Linked DNA regions of Homo sapiens. The protein of the gene in region 2 interacts with the protein of the main gene of each other region in a pairwise test. Each region holds a gene or a part of one and is shown on either strand. Other genes may lie near its edges.

Evidence for each region. The genes of interacting proteins can lie anywhere in the genome.
Region 1: the proteins of FAM204A (region 2) and SPANXN2 interact in binary tests that used the Homo sapiens proteins (3 or more experiments, as listed by UniProt).
Region 3: the proteins of FAM204A (region 2) and SMYD1 interact in binary tests that used the Homo sapiens proteins (3 or more experiments, as listed by UniProt).

What each region holds. Positions count from the first base shown.
Region 1 is NC_000023.11:143,711,455-143,717,752, reverse strand, and holds the end of SPANXN2 (sperm protein associated with the nucleus on the X chromosome N2), read left to right. Parts: intron 1-5,253; coding exon 5,254-5,718; 3' UTR 5,719-5,798; downstream 5,799-6,298.
Region 2 is NC_000010.11:118,332,222-118,339,336, reverse strand, and holds part of FAM204A (protein FAM204A), read left to right. Parts: intron 1-1,928; exon of another isoform or gene 1,929-2,094; coding exon of another isoform or gene 2,095-2,107; exon of another isoform or gene 2,108-2,111; intron 2,112-2,913; coding exon of another isoform or gene 2,914-2,921; coding exon 2,922-3,155; intron 3,156-3,695; coding exon 3,696-3,783; intron 3,784-3,910; coding exon 3,911-3,941; intron 3,942-4,123; coding exon 4,124-4,223; intron 4,224-7,115.
Region 3 is NC_000002.12:88,070,825-88,077,824, reverse strand, and holds part of SMYD1 (histone-lysine N-methyltransferase SMYD1), read right to left. Parts: intron 1-7,000. UniProt on the Homo sapiens protein: Methylates histone H3 at 'Lys-4' (H3K4me), seems able to perform both mono-, di-, and trimethylation. Acts as a transcriptional repressor. Essential for cardiomyocyte differentiation and cardiac morphogenesis.

The sequences.
Region 1 (6,298 bases), on a different chromosome or scaffold from region 2:
GAGGGGAAGTTTGAGTGCAAAGGGAACATGCCTTAGTAATATCTCTGAGATGGGCAACCATGGTGGAAGAATGTCTAGAAGTTTTTAAAAGCTGGAGTAGGGGCAGTAACCGGCATGGAAATGGTTGTGCACATATGAAAGTACAGAAGGTTTTTTAAACTTGGGCAAGACACTTTATCAGTGAGATCGAACTATTTTTTCCTGAATGGCACCAGCCTGGGCAAGTGGGTTTTTTTCCTGCTGGGTATATACAGGGTGTATGCTGGGAAAAAAAATGAGCAATAACGATGGGGTTTTAAGGGCTGCCTGCCAGGCTGCCGAATTTGTTGAAAGGTTTTTCTCGGTTTTGGCATCTGTAGCCTTTCGGTGTCCCTTGCAATGGATAATGGTGGCCTTTGGTGGTGGTTTATCCACCCCCAACAGCTTATGTGTAAGTTTGCCATTTCTTATGGGGGTTCCTTTTGTAGTTAGGAAACCCTGTTCCTGCCAGATGAAGGCATGAGACTGTAGGACATGGTATGCATATTTGGAATGGGTGTAAATGTTGACCCTCTTTCCCTTTGCTAGGGTGAGGGCCCTGGTTAGGGCAACTAGCTTTGCCTGTTGAGAGGTAGCATGGGGTGTGAGAGCATTCGATTCTAGGAGTTTATCTTCAGCACTGATGGAATAGCCAGCTGCTGGACATGGCTGCCTAAAAGAGGTTCCATTAACTAACCGTGTATGTGTTCCCTGCAAAGGGGCATCTGAAATGTGTTGGAAGGGGGAGGAGAGGGAGTCTAAGAGGTCCAGACAGGAGTGAGAGAGCTTAGAGTCGGAAGTGTTTACAGGGAGAAGGGTGGCTGGGTAGAGAATTTTATGTCTCTGGAAGGTGATTAGAGGGTTACCTATGAATAAGGCATGCACCTGCTGTAAGCAGGATGGTGGGAGGGATAGAAGGGATTGGTGGTTTATGAGGTCCTGTAGATAATGGGAAGATGCAATAGTAATGTGTTGGTAGAGAGGGAGTTTCCGTGCATCTAAGGCCAGCAATGTGGCCATACCCAAGATTTTTAGTCAGAGTGACCAGCCTCGGATGACAGAGTCCAGTTGTTTTGAGAGGCGTGCAATGGCTTCTGGGGCGTTGCCATATGTTTGGCAGAGTAGTCCAAGGGCAAGGCGCTGGTCAGAATGTACATAGAAAGTAACAGGCTTGGTGAGGTTTGGCAGTCCCAGTGCCAGGGCCATTAAAAGGGCATTTTTAAGTTTTTAAGTTGGAGTTGATGGGGCAAGCTGGGTTCAGGGGTTTTAGGATGGGCCCATGTGAGGCTACGTATAGTGGCTTGGCCAGCAAGTCAAAGTTAGGAATTCACAGCCAGAAGTATCCCACAAGGCCCAAGAAGGAGGGGAGGTCCTTTTTTTTTATGTGGGGAAGGGGCATGTCCCAAATTGGCTCCTTTCATTGGGTTGGGATGGCTCGAGAATTAGGGGTTAGAACAAACCCAAGGTAAGTAACTTTGATTTGGGTACCTGAGATTTTGTGGGTTAGGCCCAATATACTTGATTATGAAGGAAGTTTAAAACCTGAGTGGTGTGTTGAATGGACAGGTTAAGAAAGGGGCTACAGAGAAGGAGGTCATTGACATACTGGAGGAGGGTACTAGGAGCAAGGGGAAGTTCAGCTAGGTCCTTGATGAGGGCCTGTCTGAACAGGTGGGGCCTATCCCGGAACCCCTCTAAGAGTACAGTCTAGGTGTAAGTCCATGTGTAAGTCCTGTAAGAGTACAGGACATGTGAGTATTAGGATTTGACCAAGTCAAAGCAAAAAGACTTTGGTAAGCCAGATTTAAGGGAATAGTGAAATAGTTGTCTTTTAGTTCAATACAAAGGAGTGTGTGGTAGATGGGGCAATACGGTAGAGTAGAGTATATTGGTTGAGGACCACTAGATGGATTGGTACCACGGCCTGGTTAACGACTTGGAGATCCTAGACAAAGGGGTAAGTCCCGTCTGTCTTTTGGAAAGCCAGAATAGGGGTGTTGTGGGGAGAGTTAACAGGCTTGAGAATATGAGCTTGTAAAAGTTTACAGATAATAGGTTTGAGACCCCCTAAGCAAGGCTGGATTAAGGGGATATTGAGACTGATGAAGGAAAATGGAGGGGTTTTGAAGGGTTATTTTAACTGGGATGTGATGTGTGGCTATTGTGGGTTTAGAAACATTCCAAGCTTTAGAATTAACAGAAGGTAACAGGGTGGATAATGAGGATGAGTGGGGGGAGAGGGAAGCGTTTGGGTGTCAGAGTAAAATAAAAGGGGTAGAATTGTAGGAGCCACATTGCATGGAGTTCTGGAATTTACTTAATATGTCCCATCCCAAGATAGGGGTAGGGGACTGAGGGATAACCAGGAAAGAGTGGGTGAAGGGGGCTGCTGAATAGGTTGTATAATAAAGGACCAGTCTGTGCCTAGAGGGGATTTTATTGATTCTCACAATAGAGATCGAAGAACAGAAAAAGGGTCTAGAATATTCTGGTCAAACTGAGTAACTAGTTGTCCTATTGAGTATCCAATAGGAAAGACATGGGCTTACTAGAGACTGACAGAATTACCCTGGGTTCCGAGGTGGTGATGGCAGTAGGGGCGGTGGACTCCAGGCCCCACCTGTCTTCAGGTACAGGTGGTGAAGCAGGATGAAGAGTTTCAGTGAGCACAGTCTGACTTCCAGTGTTGCTTGATACCACAGATGGGGCAAGATTTCCAGAGTGTCCTGGGATTAGGCTAGGCTTTTGCCCAGTGTCCCTGTTAGACGAACTTGTAACAGGCTCCTGGAGTTGACTGTTGCCAAGTTGAGGAATTCTGTAGGCCTTGGGAACCCTGTTGAGTGGCAGCTACCAGCATTTGGTATTTAGCCTGGTCCTTCTTTAGGTTTGGATTTTTTAGTTCTTCCTCTCTAATCTTATAGATCTTGAAGGCCACTTTGATTAAGTCTCTTTGGAAGGTTTGAGGGCCACCCTCCAGTTTTTTAAGTTTTTTTCAAATGTCTGGGTCTGACTGGGAGATAAAGTATAAATGGAGGTAGTTTTTGCCCTTATTGGTATTAGGGCTTAAGGTGGCATATTTAGTTGTGACTTTTGAAAGGCAGGAGAGGAAACGAGCAGGGACAGCTTTATTTATGCCAGCTAGAAGGCATGATATCATATGGCCTGATTTCTGTCTGTCTACTGAAGTTGCCTGATAATTCCAACTGGGGCCAGTTCTGGGGACAGCTAGGGTCCCTATTGGATTATGAGCAGCATCTTGTTGGTGGAGGGTGTTCTCATGGACCTGGGCACCCATAAAGATGTGTTCCCTGTCCTCCAGGGTGAGGGTAGAGGAGAGGATGACATATATGTCATGCCAGGTAAGGTCATAAGATTTAGGGAAGTACAAGAATTCCTTGTGGAAGGAGGTTGGATCCATTGAAAAGGAGTCAAGTCTCCTTTCAATATGGGAAAACTCAGCTAGAGAGAAGGGAACTTGAATTCAGATTATGCCTTTAGCCCTCGCAACCTCCTGCAAGGGAAGGACTTTGGAAGGCCTTTGGGCATGTGCCTGGTTCCTAGCGAAAGGGGGTTGGGTGTGAGACCTGGTTTGAGGTGGAGAAGGAAGGGGGATGGAGGGCGACAGTAAGGGGGTGGAGGAGCCGGATCCGAAGGAGAAGGTGGAGGGAATGGGAGAGGGCAGGAGGCTGAAGAACGGGTGTGTTGGCCAGGTTGAAATTCAGAGGAAGAAGACTTGTCCGGAGGAAGAGGCATTTTGGGGGGTTTCTCCTTGAGGAGGAAGATTTGAAAAGGTGAACAAGATTGGCAGAGAGAGAGAGAGAGAGAGAGAGAGAGAGAGAGAGTGAGGCATGAAAGGAGATAAGCAAAGCACTTCAGATTATTTACCATTGCATTGAAGAAAGTTTTTTAGATTATGTTGAATTTGGAAGTTGAATGTTTTGTTTTTTGGAAGAGGGGAGTGAATACTCTGGATGGGAGTGACTACCCCTGAGGAAAGTGAGTACCCTGGAAGGGAGTGAGTACCCCAGGGGTGAGCGAGTACTCCAGAGAGAAGTGAATACCCCATAGGGAAGTGAGTACTTGATTCCTCCTGGGAGAAGGGACCTGGAGAGTTGGGGCAGCCCCGTACTATTCATGCTCCCCAGAGGCCAGAGCAGCCAGAGTGGCAAACGTTTTGAAGGTGTACCCTAAGAAGGGAGGCTGCAGTCACCTGGTGACTGGGGAGACCTCTCACCCAGCACTGGAATTTTTTGGAGAACGGGCAGAAATAGAGAGGAATCTGGAAAGGAGGAAGAGGGAGACTCACCCACTAATTGAAGCCCAGTGTTGGATGTGATGTCCAGAAATGGGGGTGATCCTTGTTGCAGCTGCCCGGAAACAGGAAGGAACAAAAAATAAGGTGGCTTGTTTGATCACTATCTGGAGGTTAGCCCAGGTCTGGAGAAGACTAGAGAATAAGGAGAATGGGACTGGGAACAGGGAGTACACTCAGGATCTGGAAGCAGGCCCTGGTCTAGTTTGTGCTGCTTGCTGCTTTCCAGGTTGCAAGAGAAAACTTACCCATTAGAACCCAATCACCACTCCAGGTTTTGGCACCAAAATGTTAGGTTTTGAAGGGAAGGCAAGGATGAAAGAAAGACACACAGGGGGCAGCTCAAACAGCAACACAGGAATATGGCAGACACCTATGGAAGTGGAGGACAAGCTTAATGCCAGAGCCCACCGCCGCTTACAGGCTGGGGTACTTACAGGGATGGGCAGGAGGGATCTGGGCAATGTGGGATGCTATCCGGCAGGATATTGATAAGATGTTCTTATGATCAGGTGGTTTGGCCCTTTTTCCAGTGGAATATCATTGTGGCGTTCCTTAGAACTTTGCCAAGCAAGATATGATAGGAATGTTTCTTTAGTTGGGCCTTTGTCCGCCCTGTGGTCAGGTGGTTAGGCAGGATGTTTCTCACGGCCTGAGCCCCCATGGAGTGTCTCACTTTGACCAAGGTCTGCAAAATAGCAAAGAACTTGCGAAATCGTGCAGTTTGGACTAACAGATGACCCTACCCATGCTCCTCTTCTTCTTCCCCATAGATCACTACCCTATGATTCCACCTTGTTCTTCTCTGGCACAAACCCCTTCCTCAACCTGCATTCCTTCTCATAAAGCCCCCCTTGCTATCCAGTCTCTACCCTATTCACCCAAAATAATGACTTTCTGGCCTCTCCCTGTTTTCTTATCAGATGCAGGAGGCACCGAACAGGGTCTTAGCCCCCAAACAGAGCTTGCAAAAGACAAAAACAATAGAATATCTAACAATAATAGTGTATTACTACAGGAAGCATACGAAAATAAATTCAAATCAACTGGAGAAGGACCAGTCCCGAGAGAACTCCATCAATCCAGTCCAAGAGGAGGAGGACGAAGGCCTAGACTCAGCTGAAGGATCTTCACAGGAGGACGAAGACCTGGACTCATCTGAAGGATCTTCACAGGAGGACGAAGACCTGGACTCATCTGAAGGATCTTCACAGGAGGACGAAGACCTGGACTCATCTGAAGGATCTTCACAGGAGGACGAAGACCTGGACTCATCTGAAGGATCTTCACAGGAGGACGAAGACCTGGACCCACCTGAAGGATCTTCACAGGAGGACGAAGACCTAGACTCATCTGAAGGATCTTCACAGGAGGGTGGGGAGGACTAGTCAAACATGGAGAAACCAAATTGGACAAATCCTCACTACCAATGGCGATGATTACAATAAAATCAAGTTTGAGGAGCTGATGACCGTGTATATCTCTGCCTGTTGTCTGATGGTGGGAAGGAAGGGAAGGGAAGAGGTAGGCATTTGAGAAGGGAAGGATATGAGATCCTGTAGGGTTGGCGGACAGACCCACAGGTTGACAGTTTCCCAGACATTGTAAATAAGGCCTGGGGGAGGACTTATTCCTAGAGACAAATTTTCTTCTTAAAATTTTATCTAACAGGAGAGGAAGAAAAGGACTTGGTGTTTGGAGCATGTGAATATGTAGAAGGGCATTTAAAAAGATCTGTATTGGCCGGGCACGGTGGCTCATGCCTATAATCCCAGCACTTTGGGAGGCCGAAGCAGACGATCTCCTGAGGTCAGGAGTTCGAGACCAGCCTGTCCAACATGGCAAACCCCAGTCTCTACTAAAAAAAAAAAATACAAAAATTAGCTGGGAGTGGTGGCAGGTGCCTGTAATCCCAGCTACATGCGAGGCTGAGGCAGGAGAATCACTTGAACACAGGAGGCGGAAGTT
Region 2 (7,115 bases):
TAGAAAGACTGTTTTGAAACATGAGTCCAAAGCAAAAGTCACTAAGCAGCCACTCCATATTGGCTGATCTGTAACTGGGCTGCTGCTTACACGGGCAACTCCATTTTGCAGGCTGCACAGTAAGTGGCAGCAGTTATCCGTGTTTATCAGTGACTGCTCAGTCTCCCTTGTATTTGTTTTTTTGAGAGTCACAGGAAAATGGCACATGACTAAAGGTTCTAAAGAGTGGAATTCAAAACCTACCTGATTTGAATTTTGCCTGGATTTAGAGGTGGATTCCACCTTTTTCAAACTATTTTAATTTTTTTTCCTTTGGGTACACTCAAGAAATTATCATACCAGGCAGATGCCACACTGAGGACAGTTTTTAATGCCACATGAGCAGGAGCTAAAAATATATAATTTTGAGAAAATTTAAAAAGCCATAAAAAATGCCTAACTACTTGAAGGCTGATTAGCAACAACAACAGCAAAAAGCATGCCTTCTTCGGGGCAACTGAGACTGCTTCCCAGAGGGAAGCATGTTTGGGTGCCCAGAGCATAGACTATCACCCTGCAGAGATGCTAAAACAGTGGTTTAGTAGGAGACCTGTGCCACTGCCCATTGGAGAGGCATACACGTTTCATGAGCAGTCACATCTAAAGTCCAGGTCAAGGAATACTTGGCTCAAAAACTGAGCAGAAACTTGCTATGTGTATAGCTGTCATTTCGTGAGGCTAGGGATTTTTGCCTGTTTTATATACTTCTGTCCCCAGGGTCTTGAAGAGTGTCTGGCACATAAGTGGGCATGTAAAATATTTTATGGACAGGAAGGGAAAGAGTTATTTCTAACATAGACTCCAGTGATGCTAAGAAATCCAAACCTGAAATTTGTTACTGTTTTAAGTCCTTAAATGATAATGAGCCTAAAGGTATATTATATGGCGGTGGCCAAGTCATACTGGAACTTATTACTGCTTCCTTCCCCTTGCTCTCAGAACAGGAGAAATCTTTTTTATTAATAGCATGACACCTGTTTTTCAATATTGGCATATTTTACATGATGTCTTTTGTGCTATTGGAGTATTTCAAGAGTACTGCTGTCCCAACTTTAAAAATCCACAGACAGGTTTAGGGATAGATCTGGGTTTTATGGGGCCTGGAGCTTATATAACTTCGGGTTTCTTCCTTTAAACAAAGAAATGTAAATTCTGAATAGAAAACTAGGTACAGTGCTTTGGAAGGACCTGTGCAGATGAGGAATCTTGGAGCTTAAGGTTACCATTATCTTCCTAGTAATTTGCCCTCATTTTATTCCTCCATTCAGAAAACCAAACACTAACATTTGTTATAGACACTTCACATCAGATTGTGACTATCAAGGAAGCAAATGATTGCATCAGTTGCTAAGTGAGTGCACCACAATTATTAGAAACTTCAAAACTATCTTATGAACCCTGTCACTCATAATAGAAATGATAAAAATGTAATACATGGCCACAGAAATAATAATAGCAAAGAGAACTTAACATTTATTGAGCCCCTAGGACCTCCTAAACACTGTGTTGAGGGGCTTATCTCATTTAATCCTCAGAATAGCCCTATAAGCAGTATAATTATCCCTGCATTACAGATAAAGAAATTGAGGGTCAGAGATGTCAAATGATTTCCTCATACTACTAGTAGTGTCAGAGTTAAGATTCTAGTTGGAGCAGTTAGATGCCAGAGTCCTTCCTCATAAAAAGCCAACAGAATATTTGGTGAGGATATTTCAGAGAGCCAGCAACTGATGAGGCTGGACCAAAGCCACAAAAAGTAAGATCTGATTCTTTGGACCTGGAAGGAGGTCTTTAAAAGATAAGAGAAATCTGTTATCACAAAATCCCTGATGTGTTTGTCTCAGAGAGAATGGTGGTTTCTTTTGTTTGTTTGTTTGTTTTTTAACTAGGTTAATCACAATATGGGACAGAAAACTGCAAAACAAATTTCCGTCCTTCCATTTTATTCCTTCATATTGATAGTAAATCATGAGCAGTACAACCGGCTTCTCTATTTTAAGCATCTTTTGAAGGAACTGGTTTTGGCTCAATATATGTGCTAAAATAGACTGTGCCATGAAGATCAATAGTGAGTATGTACTTGAGTATTATACTTTTAGCAAATGATAACAATTCTGCTATTTTAAGTCATTTTATTAAACTTAATGGTTCTCTCTACTAATGGACTGTATAGCTAATGCTAAATATTATCTTGAACTTGACCATTAGTTTCCCAAATATAGTATTGTTACTTTAAAAAGCTGTACATTTTTGTTAAATTGTTAGGATTATATTTCATTTAATATTATTTTAGCAAACAGTATTAAACTAAAAAGTAGGATATCCTTTTTACTACGATACCTTCCTCCAACTACTTATGTAGCTTAAAAATTTTCCTTTAGTTATTTTCCTGCTCCTTAGACAAGACGCCCTCTGAAAGCTTTGTCCATTAAATATAGGTGAAACATGCAGTTTTATTCTCTAATTGGTATAGCTTCAAATATGGTATTTTAATCCTAAATTGCTTGCAAAGTATGTTGTTAGGTTTTTAACATTCTTGAGCAATGCTTTACTGAATTTCATGTTTTTTTTAGACAAAACTACTCATATATTAGAGAATCAAGGCTCTATTTTCTTTACCTGTAGGTGTATGTTGTAACAAACTTGTTTAAACAGCTTTTAAACTTCTAAACTTTTTTTTTACTTACACAAGTGAAGATTTTAATTATTTTATAACAGGTTCATTCTATGCCATTTTAGATTAAAAAAAAAAAGTTTAGATGGACTGTTCCCAAACCATTGTTATAATTATTAGGCACCTGGAATGTCTTCTAATGGTCTTAAAATTATTTCTATGGTTATTCTACATGTGTAAATTAATCTTTTTCCTCATAGAAGAAAAGATGTGGAGTGGGCTGCTACCTCCTGGCCTAAATGAAAGTGACGCTGAGTCAAACTCGGAAGATGAAGCTACGTTGGAGAACTCTGGACTTAACTTACAGGAAGATAAAGAGGATGAGAGCATCAGAAAAACAGAAATCATAGATTTCTCAACAGATGAACCAAAAACTGAAACAGAGTCAAATGTAAATGCCTATGAAGAGTGTCCTTCTGGAATTCCCATAGATATGTGGAATGTAGGTTTTCTCTGAAATGCTCTTGCTACAGCCTGTGTGTGTGCACATGCCTCTGTGTGTCTCTGCCCTGGTCAGAATGTGCATGTATTCTTGGGACTTAACAGGGAGGGAGATGGACTCAGAATGCTTTTACTGTTCTCTGAGGCATCGGCCACTTAGATACTTGCGTTTATTTTGTTTTGTTTTTCATAGAAAGACGGAGGGGGAAAAAAAAAAAACCCAAACCACTATGTAGTATTAGCTGTTTGCCTAGCGTGGTACATGAGTAGTTTCTGTCTTTATTTAACCTTTTATTTATCTTTTTTGTTACCTACATGAGCTTCACTCTCAAATTATCAAATGACTTATTTCAAAACAAGTGAATATCAAAACTCAGGTTGTGAGTCTCAGAGAATAGAGCATCTCAAGAACTGACTACCATCATTAAATTGGTATCTTTATACACGCTGAAATATAATTGTTTTATTACTTCATTATTTTTTAAATGCATGTTTTTCTGGAAAGTATATTTGCTTCTCAATTTTTTTTTCTTTTACATAGAAATTTCAAGAATTGCATAAAAAACATTCTGAACAGAAAAGCACAACCTCAAGATTCAGAGGGAAAAGAAGAAAACGCTCCAGAAAAGGTGTTTTGTTTTAACTCAGGTTGTTCGTCGTGCTAATGCTAAGTTGTGACTGAGTTTAACCATTTTTTTAAAATATGGTTTTGAAATTACTGAAGTTAGGTATTGACACTTTGTGAATTCTTTTCAGATAAATTGAAGAATGAAAAAGAATTACATAGGTAGGTAGAATTTAAAATAGTTATCTATTTTAGGCCATTGTAGAAATTGTTGAACTAATTGTTTCTGATAGTAATCAAACATATGAACTAGTAATTGTAGTATAATTGTAGTAACCGATTAAAAACAGTAAAAGTAAAGACAGTATATATTGTATAAAACAAAACTTACTATCTTCTTTTAGTGAACCGTCCTCAAATGAAACCCAGTGGAAAGAGCTTACTCAGTATTTTGGAGTCAATGATAGATTTGACCCGCCTGTTAAAAGGAAAAAAGTTGAGAAGGTAATATCTTTGTTATTGCATCTTATACCAGCTAGTAGGATATGTTTGTGATTAGCCTCGCCTAAAGTACTTGTCCTCATTAATTCATTCAGTTAAAAAGATGCCTACTGCATACCAAAAAGGGTGCTAGATAAGTAAATATATAGTTACAAATTATTAAAAAACTGTTAAGAGAAAGAACAGGTTGTTGTGAAAATATTAAAATGGGGGCTTCACTTTAGCATGGATGGTCAGGGAAAGCCTTTCATAGAAGGTGCCACGTCACTGAGACCTGAAGGATGGAAAAAACTGTCTATATAAAGAATGCTAGCGCAGAGGCATGGATAAAGATCCTAGGGAAGAGTCGTCCTGGGACATTCCAGTAACTGTAGGAAGGCCAGCCTGGCTGGAATGGGGTCAGCGAGGAGGAGGGTAGCCCACTATATGATTACAGAGGCAGGCAGTCAGTGACCAAATTGTGTAGGACCTCAAAAGGCTTAGTAAAGAAATGGGTTTTATTCACAATGCAGTTGAGAGTCATAAAGGCTTTTAAGTCAAGGGAATGACATGACCTATGTTAAAAAGATTCGTATGACTGTTACCTGGTGAACTGATTGTGAGGCAGCAAAAATAGATGAGAACAGAACAGTTAAGAGACTTCTAGGCATAAGATGATGATGAATTGAACCAGAATGGTTCTGCTGAAGAAGGAAAAAAGTGGATGGATTTGAGGCGTATTGTAGAAGTAAAATTGATGATACTTGCCTCTGGATTGCTTGCGAGGTGATAGGGAGGGTTTGGGGCGTATGGAAGGGGAGAGAATCATTCAAAGCTTTGGCTTAAGCAGTGGTGTGGATAGTGATGTTACGAAGAGAAATTTGGGGAAGGGAAAGGATTGAGAGTGGGACCTAGCCAAAGTTCAGTTTGGGACTTGAGTGTTATTGGAAAGCAGGAGCAGAGTTGTTGGTTAGTATAATGACCTTGAGATGCACATTTGTAGTTGTCAGTCTCTAGACATACTAATACTTAGAAGACGCTTGTGTGAATTAGTAACTCACTTATTCATACAGGGAAATGTTGGAGCATGAAAATCAAGTGCCGAGTGGTAGAGCTGGAGGCTCAGGGGGCTAGTTGAAGCCCAAGTATATTGTATCCTGTGTGTAATAGACAGATGCCTCTTTCATGGATCATTGCTGTAGACTATGTGTGTACCTAGAGACCTTTGTCATTTTCTGATCCATCTGTATTTCTTCTAAAGTATCTCTGATTTTAAATCCATCATTGCATGGTACTGTGTTATTGAGGGTGCATACATTAAGGAACTGTCAAAACAGAATTTTGCATGTAATTTATATTCATCCATATAAATTACATCTGGCTAAGGAAGTTATGGCAGTTTTCTAAACAAGGAGCCTGAGCTGGCTAGGCTTCTATCTGTCTAGGATTTTTCCTGCATTTAATATTCTACAAATAAACACAAGCATAAGAGGAAAGGAAGGACTTAGTGAAGCCCGATTCTTGCATGTTTCCTGTTCTCTTGGTAGTTCAGTATAATTGCATGCCAGCAGGTTCCTACTCATTCTTTGGTTTGGGATCGTTGGTTTAAATGGTACTCCTTTGGCTGTCCTCCTAAAGTTTCTACTGCAAATCCAACAGAGTAAATAAACTTTAAAGAATGTCCACATTGGAGATGCTGAGATAAAAACTAAATAAATGTAAGTCCAGCACATAGTAGCGACTGCTCATGAAATCTAGAGATGATTTTGAAAATCTGTGATGCAGTTAGAACAAAACTAGCATGAATTTCCATCCACTATTTTGTTTCTCTGGAGCAGAGGCTAATCTGTTACCATATCTGAGAGAACCTTTTTATTTTGTATTCACTCAACCCTCTAGGATGGTAAAACAAAACAAACTTCTTAATATGTGTCTATCGTGCAGTCTTTTTTTTCCTCCCCTTTTTCTTTTTTGGAACACTGCCAAGCTGAAACTTGCTCAACCAAGAATGTCTGTTTACAGCACTGCTGTCACCTGCCTCTCAGACAATGCAGAGGCTTGTATTTTTTAAACATAATCTTCCTAATATCCAAAGCTGTTTTAAAGTGTTCTTTGTATTAAATACAGCTATAATTGTGTTTCTGGCAGCAGTTCTGGGACTTACTAGTAATTCTGTAATCATAACATAATTATTTTGAATCTGTGGGAATTTCTTTAGAATAAATTTCACTCATTAATTTCACTATAAATGTCTCAAGTATTCTTTAGTTGAATCAGTTTGATTAGTCAGCAGTCATTATTGAAGTAGTTTTATGTATACCTAATGGATACTTTTTGGCATGAAAAACCAGAGGTACTTTATTAAATGTTAGAGTAATTGTACAATGTCTTTGATGAATTTTTCAAGTTTTTTATGAGAGGAAACTGCTATTGTATAGTGTAGCTTTTTCGAACTTGGTTTTTTTTGTTTGTTTGTTTGTTTGTTTTTAGCAGAGTGCTTTTTCCAAACAGACTCTTACATGGTTCTCCAATACATAGATCAGTTAAAAGGCTGGCTTCCTTGAGTGGGTGGAGGGAGGGGCATAGGGATGTGGAGGGAGGGGCATTAGGATGTGGAGGGAGGGGCATAGGGATGTGGAGGGAGGAGGTATAGGAGAGGGAGGTTTAGGGGTGTGGTGAGAGAGGTATGGGGAGTGTTGTAGTGGTACCATGAAGATCCCCTGGTATCAGTTGTAAACCATTGCCTCTTGGTTCCTGTGTGATTTCCGTGGGGTAGGTTGATAGGTCCAGTGTTATTCTCAGAATACAGATAAAGAAACTGAAGCTCAGCATAATTTGCCTAAGAAAACAAACCAGGTGAGAAGTGAAATGAGACTTTAAACCCAAGTCATTTGGTCCCAAATCTAGATTTTTTCT
Region 3 (7,000 bases), on a different chromosome or scaffold from region 2:
TTGAACCTGGGAGGCGGAGCTTGCAGTGAGCCGAGATCACGCCACGGCACTCTAGCCTGGGTGACAATGTGAGACTCCGTCTCAAAAAAAAAAAAAAAAAAAGAAATGCCCACCCCTCCCCTGCCTTACTGCCCCTAGTGCAGGAGAGTGTCCAAATAACATGAAGTCCTAAAGCCACTTTTTGGATTCCGAGAAAGAGCATTTGTCCCAGGCAGTCTTAGCTGGGTGACCTTCAGCAAGTCTCGTTTCTCCCGAGTCTTACATTCCTATTCACACAAGAAGGTATCAACTCCCACTTACACAGCACTTTGCCATTTCAAAGAGATGTTTTTAGTGATTCGTTTTTTTAAAAATCTTCACAGCAACCCTTTAGACTGGCCGAGATCATTATCCTCACAGGGATATTATTCTCTTAAGGGTCCCTGACGCCGGACGCTGCTCCCAGCACAGAAGGCGGGCGGATGCAGCTACAAGGCCCACCTGCTTGGCCTGCAGCCTTGAATGTGCCCTGCTCCAGCAGCTGGTCCCCTCTCACTCTGCTCTGCAGCCCTGCTGGACTCTGTGATCTGTCAGAGTGAAGAGGGCTGGAAGGGCAGCTGCTGCTCAGCTCCTTGTATGGAAATAGTTGCTCACGGACAGATAAATGCAAAGACAAGGTGCCTGCATGGTGGGCAAGCCCTCCAAAAACTCAGCCAGAGAGGACAGGACCAACAGTTCAACCGTTCTGTCTTTCAGGGATGCTTACAAACTCCCAGCCTGCCAGAAGGTCTCTCCTCAAAAATTAGAGGGAAGTGTCTTTTTTTTTTTTTTTTTGAGACAGGGTCTTTCTCTGTCCTCCAGGCTGGAATGCAATGGCATAATCACTGCTTATTGCAGCCTCAAACTCCTGGGCCTAAGCGACCCTCCCACCTTAGCCTCCCAAGTAGCTGGGACTACAGGCACATGCCACCACGCTTGGCTTGTTTTTATTTTTATTTTTTTGTAGAGATGGAATTTCATTATGTTGCCCAGGCTGGTCTCAAACTCTTGAGCTCAAGCGATCCGCCTGCCTCAGCTTCCCAAAATGCTGGGATTACAGGCGTAAGCCTGCTGTGCCCAGCCTGGGGTAGGTGTCTTAAAGAACATCCCATCCCTCAAGTACCCAGATAACTTCACAATATTTTAAATTCTTTTTCTCATTCCTTCTTCTTTTCTTCTTTCCCTCTGTCTTTCCTTCCCTCCCTGCTTCATTCTGCAAGTATTTATTGAGAATCTGTTATGTGCATTGAGCTAGGTAATAGAGGGCCTTAAAAGATAAAGGAAGGCGGGGCGCGGTGGCTCACGTCTGTAATCCCAGCACTTTGGGAGGCCGAGGCAGGCGGATCACAAAGTCAGAAGATCGAGAACATCCTGGCCAACACGGCGAAACCCCGTCTCTACTAAAAACAAACAAACAAAAAACAATTAGCTGGGCGTGGTGGCGGGCGCCTGTAGTCCCAGCTACTCGGGAAGCTGAGGCAGGAGAATCGCGTGAACCCAGGAGGCGGAGCTTGCGGTGAGCCGAAATCACGCCACTGCACTCCAGCCTGGGCGACAGAGCGAGACTCTGTCTCAAAAACAAAAAAGATAAAGGAAATACCGACTTTGCCTTCAAGCAGTCCCCAGGCTGGGATGGGACATAAACACATATAAACAAGGCAGGACCCACATTCCACAAGCATGGTAACTTGCTGTAAGTTTCGAGGAAGAGAGACTACTTCAACTGAGGTAGGAGAGGCAATCTAGAAAGGCATCACCTACGAGATGAGGAGGCATTGTTCTGACCTCGAGAGATAGGCTGAGTTTGTACTCAGAGAAGGTTGAGGTCTTCCAGAAAGAGGCACTGATAGGCAAATGTGTCGGTGTGGGGGTGTACATATAGGAGACAGAGTTAGCCGTTGGATGAGATCATGAGATTCATGTTTGCACTGACTATTAAATACCTTGACATAAGAAGTCAGTGGGGGCTGGGGTAGTGGCTTACACCTGTAATCCCAGAACTTTGGGAGGCTGAGGCAGGAGGATCACTTGAGCCCAGGAGTTTGAGACCAGCTTGGGCAAAATAGTGAGACCACTGCCTCTACAAAAAACAAAAATAAAAAGTAGCCAGCCATGGTGGCAGGCACCTGTAGTCCCAGCTACTCCAGAGACTGAGGTGGGAGGATGGCTTGGGCCCAGCAGGTAGAGGCTGCAATGAGCCATGATTGTGCCATGACACTCCAGCTTGACCAACAGAGTGAGACCCTATCTCAAAAAAAAAAAAAAAAAAAAAGAATTAAAAGGTACTGTTTCCTTGGATCAAGCCTGGAGATTGTCAATTTATTTTTAACATCCCTTTTTTTATTAAAACATCAATTCTCAAGATTTTCTCTGCCACAGCTCACACACCCTACTAAGACCTGTATACATTTCCATGGCCTAGCTGAAGCACCCCCCTCAATTCATGTTCAGAACACATCCTGGGATGCGAGTGGGTAAAGATAGCATCATTATGGGGACAACCTGCCATTTGATCTAATCCATCTTTAAAAGGCAATCATTCTCAGACTTCTGGATTTAAGAATTATTGAGCAATATTTAGCAATACAGCTCACAACAGGTTGTGTAACATGTCGACATGTCTTGCCTCTGCAGCTAAAAGTGCCAAATGAAAAGCAGAATTCTAAGTCGACTGTGGTTATTCTCAACATCCAATGCAAACATTTAAGGCTGTCACTTGAATAGTTTAGCACTTACTCATTTTCTGAACTAATTGTTCCGGAATTTCTCTAATCCTTTTATTAAATTATTTCCATTTATAGCATCATTTATCCCCCAATAACCAACCACCAGCTGTTATCAGATTAAAGGCCACATGTGTGTTTGTGTGTCTGCCAGGGCTGATCCTGCCATTCCCACATGCTCACACAGAATTACACTGACTAACCCCACCTGCTCTGCCGCACCTAAGAAAGCTCATAACTGGTTCCATTTTCAAAAAAAGCCTGGTTGACAGTAATTTATTTACAAATACTCAACTTTTTCTCATGTTCCCCACTATCTTTTTCCCTATATACACACTATATATACATAATCTCCGGGTCACTTTCAACTTTGTAACCAGAATAATTTAGAGACTGCTCAAGTTTTTATTTAAAGAACTTTTAAAAAAAAATCCACTAACTGTCCTTGCTCCTTCTTAACATATTTTGTGATGAATTGGATCAATCTAGAAAATTCTTTTTCGTTGGGGTAGACTGAATAATAGCCCCCCAAAAATTGTCAATGTCTTAATCCCCAGAACTTATAAATAGATTACATTACATGGCAGAGGAACTTTGCATGAGTGATTAAGTTAAAGACCTTGAGACAAGGACAGTATCCCAAATTTCCTAGGTGGGCCTAATGTAATTGCAAGTCCTTATAAGAGGAGGCAGGAGGTCAGCAGGGAACAAGATGTTACACTGCTGGCTTTAAAGATTCAGGAAGGGGGCCATGAGCCAAGGAATGTGGGCAGCCTCAAGTAGATGGAGATAGCAAAGAAACAGAAGTGTCAGCCTGTTTTAGACTTCTAACCTCCAGAACTATAAGATAATAAACTTGTGTTGTTTTCAGCCATTGAAGTTACAGTAGTTTGTGACAGCAGCAAAGGGAACTAAAGGCCAGGTGCCTAGGGGCTCACGCCTGTAATCCCAGCACTTTTGGAGGCTGAGGCAGGCAAATCTCTTGAGGTCAGTAGTTTGAGACCAGCCTTGGCAACATAGTGAAACCCCATCTTCTTTCCCTCTCTCTTTCTCTCTCTTTCCTTCCCTCCCTGATTCTTTCCACAAGTATTTATTGAGCATCTGTTATGTGCATCGAGCTAGGTAATAGAGGGGAGAACTAGACATAAAGGAGTAATAAACAAATGAGTTATGCATATACTTAAAAATTGAGGGCATCAAAAGAAAACAACAATTCATAAAAGAACAAATGTTAAAAAACTTTCACTTCTCTAATAATAAAAAATTCAAGTTAAAACAATACTAAAAAAAGTTTTAACAGATTAAGTTGACAAACATGAAAAAGTGAAATAGTTTTCTGTGTTGGCCAGTATTGGGATGAGGAGACAACCCCTGTGCTGCTAGTAGAAAAATGTATGATCTCCTTTGATGAGGTAATTTGGAAATCTATATCAAAAGCCTTAAAAACGTATTTTGAATTCAAAATTTATACTTGTAGGAATTTGTCTTTAATACATAATCAGAGATATATGGGAAGATCTACTAGGAAAAAGAAGAGCACACCCTTGATCTCCAAAACATAGCATCTACAAATTAGTTCAGCCCTTGTAGAAAGCAGCCTGGAGAGTTCTCAAAAAACTAAAACTAGAATTACCATTCGACCCAGAAATCCCATTACTGAATATCTACCTGAAGGAAAATAAATTATTCTACCAAAAACACACCTGCACTCATATGTTTATCACAGCACTATCCACAGTAGCAAGGACATGGAAACAACCCAGGTGCCCATCAATGGTGGATTGTATAAAGAAAACCTGGTGCATATATACCCTGTAATACTACACAGCTGTTAAAAAAGAACAAAATCACGTCCTTTGCAGCAATATGGGTGCAACTGGAGGCCATTCTCCTAAGCAAATTAATGCAGAAACAGAAAACCAAATAACATGTTTTCATTTTGAAGTGGGAGATAAACATTGGGTATGTATAGACACAAAAATGTGAACAATAAACACTGGAGATTCCAAAAGGGGAGAGGGAGGGAGAGGGTGAAGAATTGAAAAGCTACCTATAGGGTACCATGTTCACTACCTGGGCAAGCAGATTATTAGAAGCCCAAACCTCAGCATCACACAATATGCCCATGTAGCAAACCTGCACATGTACCCCCAAAATCTAAAATGAAAATAAAAACTAATATATGGCATCTAATTAAATTAATATACAAGTCAACAAAAAGAATACTATGCAGCCATTAAAATGGTGTAGAAGGATATTAATGGTTTGAAAGTTGTTCACAACATATTATGAAGTAAATAAAACAGGTTACAAAATAATCCAACTTTTTTGAGAGAAAAAGTGTATACAACTTAATTACATTGAACCTGAAATTATTAAATGCACCATTTTTATTCACTACTAAGAAATCAAAAAAAATCTGCCAATTAAACCATAATCAGCCATAGATTTTAGGATACATTATGATTTCAGAGAAGTTAAAATATGTATTCTGGAATTGATAAATATAGCATATTATGTATGTCCCATTTTCCCTCCATTCTGAAATAAACTTCTTTTCCCATATTTTAATATCCAGAATTTAGGGACATTTTGTGTCTTACAATCAAAGCATATATTTAATGTAGTGTTTCTGCCAGGCGCAGTGGCTCACGCCTGTAATCCTAGCACTTTGGGAGGCCAAGGCCGGCAGATCACTTGAGGCCGGGAGTTCGAGACCAGCCTGGGCAACAGGGTGAAACCCTGTCTCTACTAAAAATACAAAAATTAGCTGGGTGTGGTGGCATGCACCTGTAGTCCCAGCTACTCGGGAGGCTGAGGCAGGAGAATCACTTGAGCCCAGGTGGCAGAGGTTGCAGTGAGCCGAGATCTCACCACTACACTCCAGCCTGGCTGACAGAGCAAGATTTCATCTCAAAAAATAAAAATAATAACAATAATAATGTAGTATTTCTTCCAGGACCCCCACCCCACCTATAACTCATCAGAATCAAGAAAACATTTTATATGCATTGTATTTGCATCAGAAAACAAGGAGGATATACACCAGAATGTTAATAGCTGGGGTTTTTTTTTTTTTTCCAAATGTTAAGATTGCAGAGAATTATTATTTTCTTCCTTAACAACAACAACAAAACCCAGCATTGCGAATTCCCAGTTTGACCCCATGCTATGTAGAAGCTAGGAGGATCACTTGGGCTAAGGTACCACAGAGCTCCCACTCACTTTCCCCCTGAGAACTGGAAACTCTCAGAGTGGAGAGTTAAAGGGGCAGAGAGCAACTTTTACCCACTCGTGCATCACCCCCGGTATCTCAACTACCATAAAATACTGTGTCCAAAAAAGGCAACCCCTTGGTAACGGTACTTCACTCCCTTCCAGCCCCCAACCACAACACCTAAGAGGATGGCAAATAGACTTCATTTTTAAATGCTAGTTCTCATTGATTGGTAGTAGCCCCCTGGAGGACCTGCTGGAAGGGATTCTGAGGCCAAGTTGGAGTTCAGGAGGAAGGTGTGCCTGATTGATTAGTCATGCCTAGCACTTAATCCAAGTGCTACATAATAGCTAGGCCTGAAAGAATTTTCCCAGCTTTATTCTTGCTCTCTTACCTTCAAGAAGAGTACCTGCTTTTCCGACCATCAAAGGTGAAGAGATCCTAACCAGACTAAGGACCATAATTTAAGGGCCTGGATTGTTACTGTTAATGCTAAACAAAGCCCATTCTAACAAAGACACAATTCAGGTTTACAAACCAGCATTTCACAGTATGGCATTATATTTTAAAGCCAAATAACACATATATTACTGGCCTAGTAATTACACTTCTGTGATACACACCTCATGTATCTGCTTTCCAAGAGATAGGAGCAAAAATGTTCATAGCAACCATTCACAGGAGAATGGAAAAATAAATTTGGTACACAGACACACACAAAGTTTATTCATTTTATTAGTTTCACAAAACCATACAGATGAATAATAAACATTTCATTGAAAGAAACAAGTGGCATAAAACCACATATAATATTGTACCTTTGTTTAAAAGATCAAAAACAAAACATAACTAAATTATACATTGTTTAGAAATATGTGACTGTGATAAAACTATTACTGTTTTTTTTTTTTTTTTTTTTTTTTTGAGAAATAGTCTTGCTCTGTCACCCAGGCTAGAGTGCAGTGGCATGATCTTGGCTCATTGCAACCTCTGCCTCCCGGGTTTAAGCGATTCTCTCACCTCAGCCTTCTGAGTAGCTGGG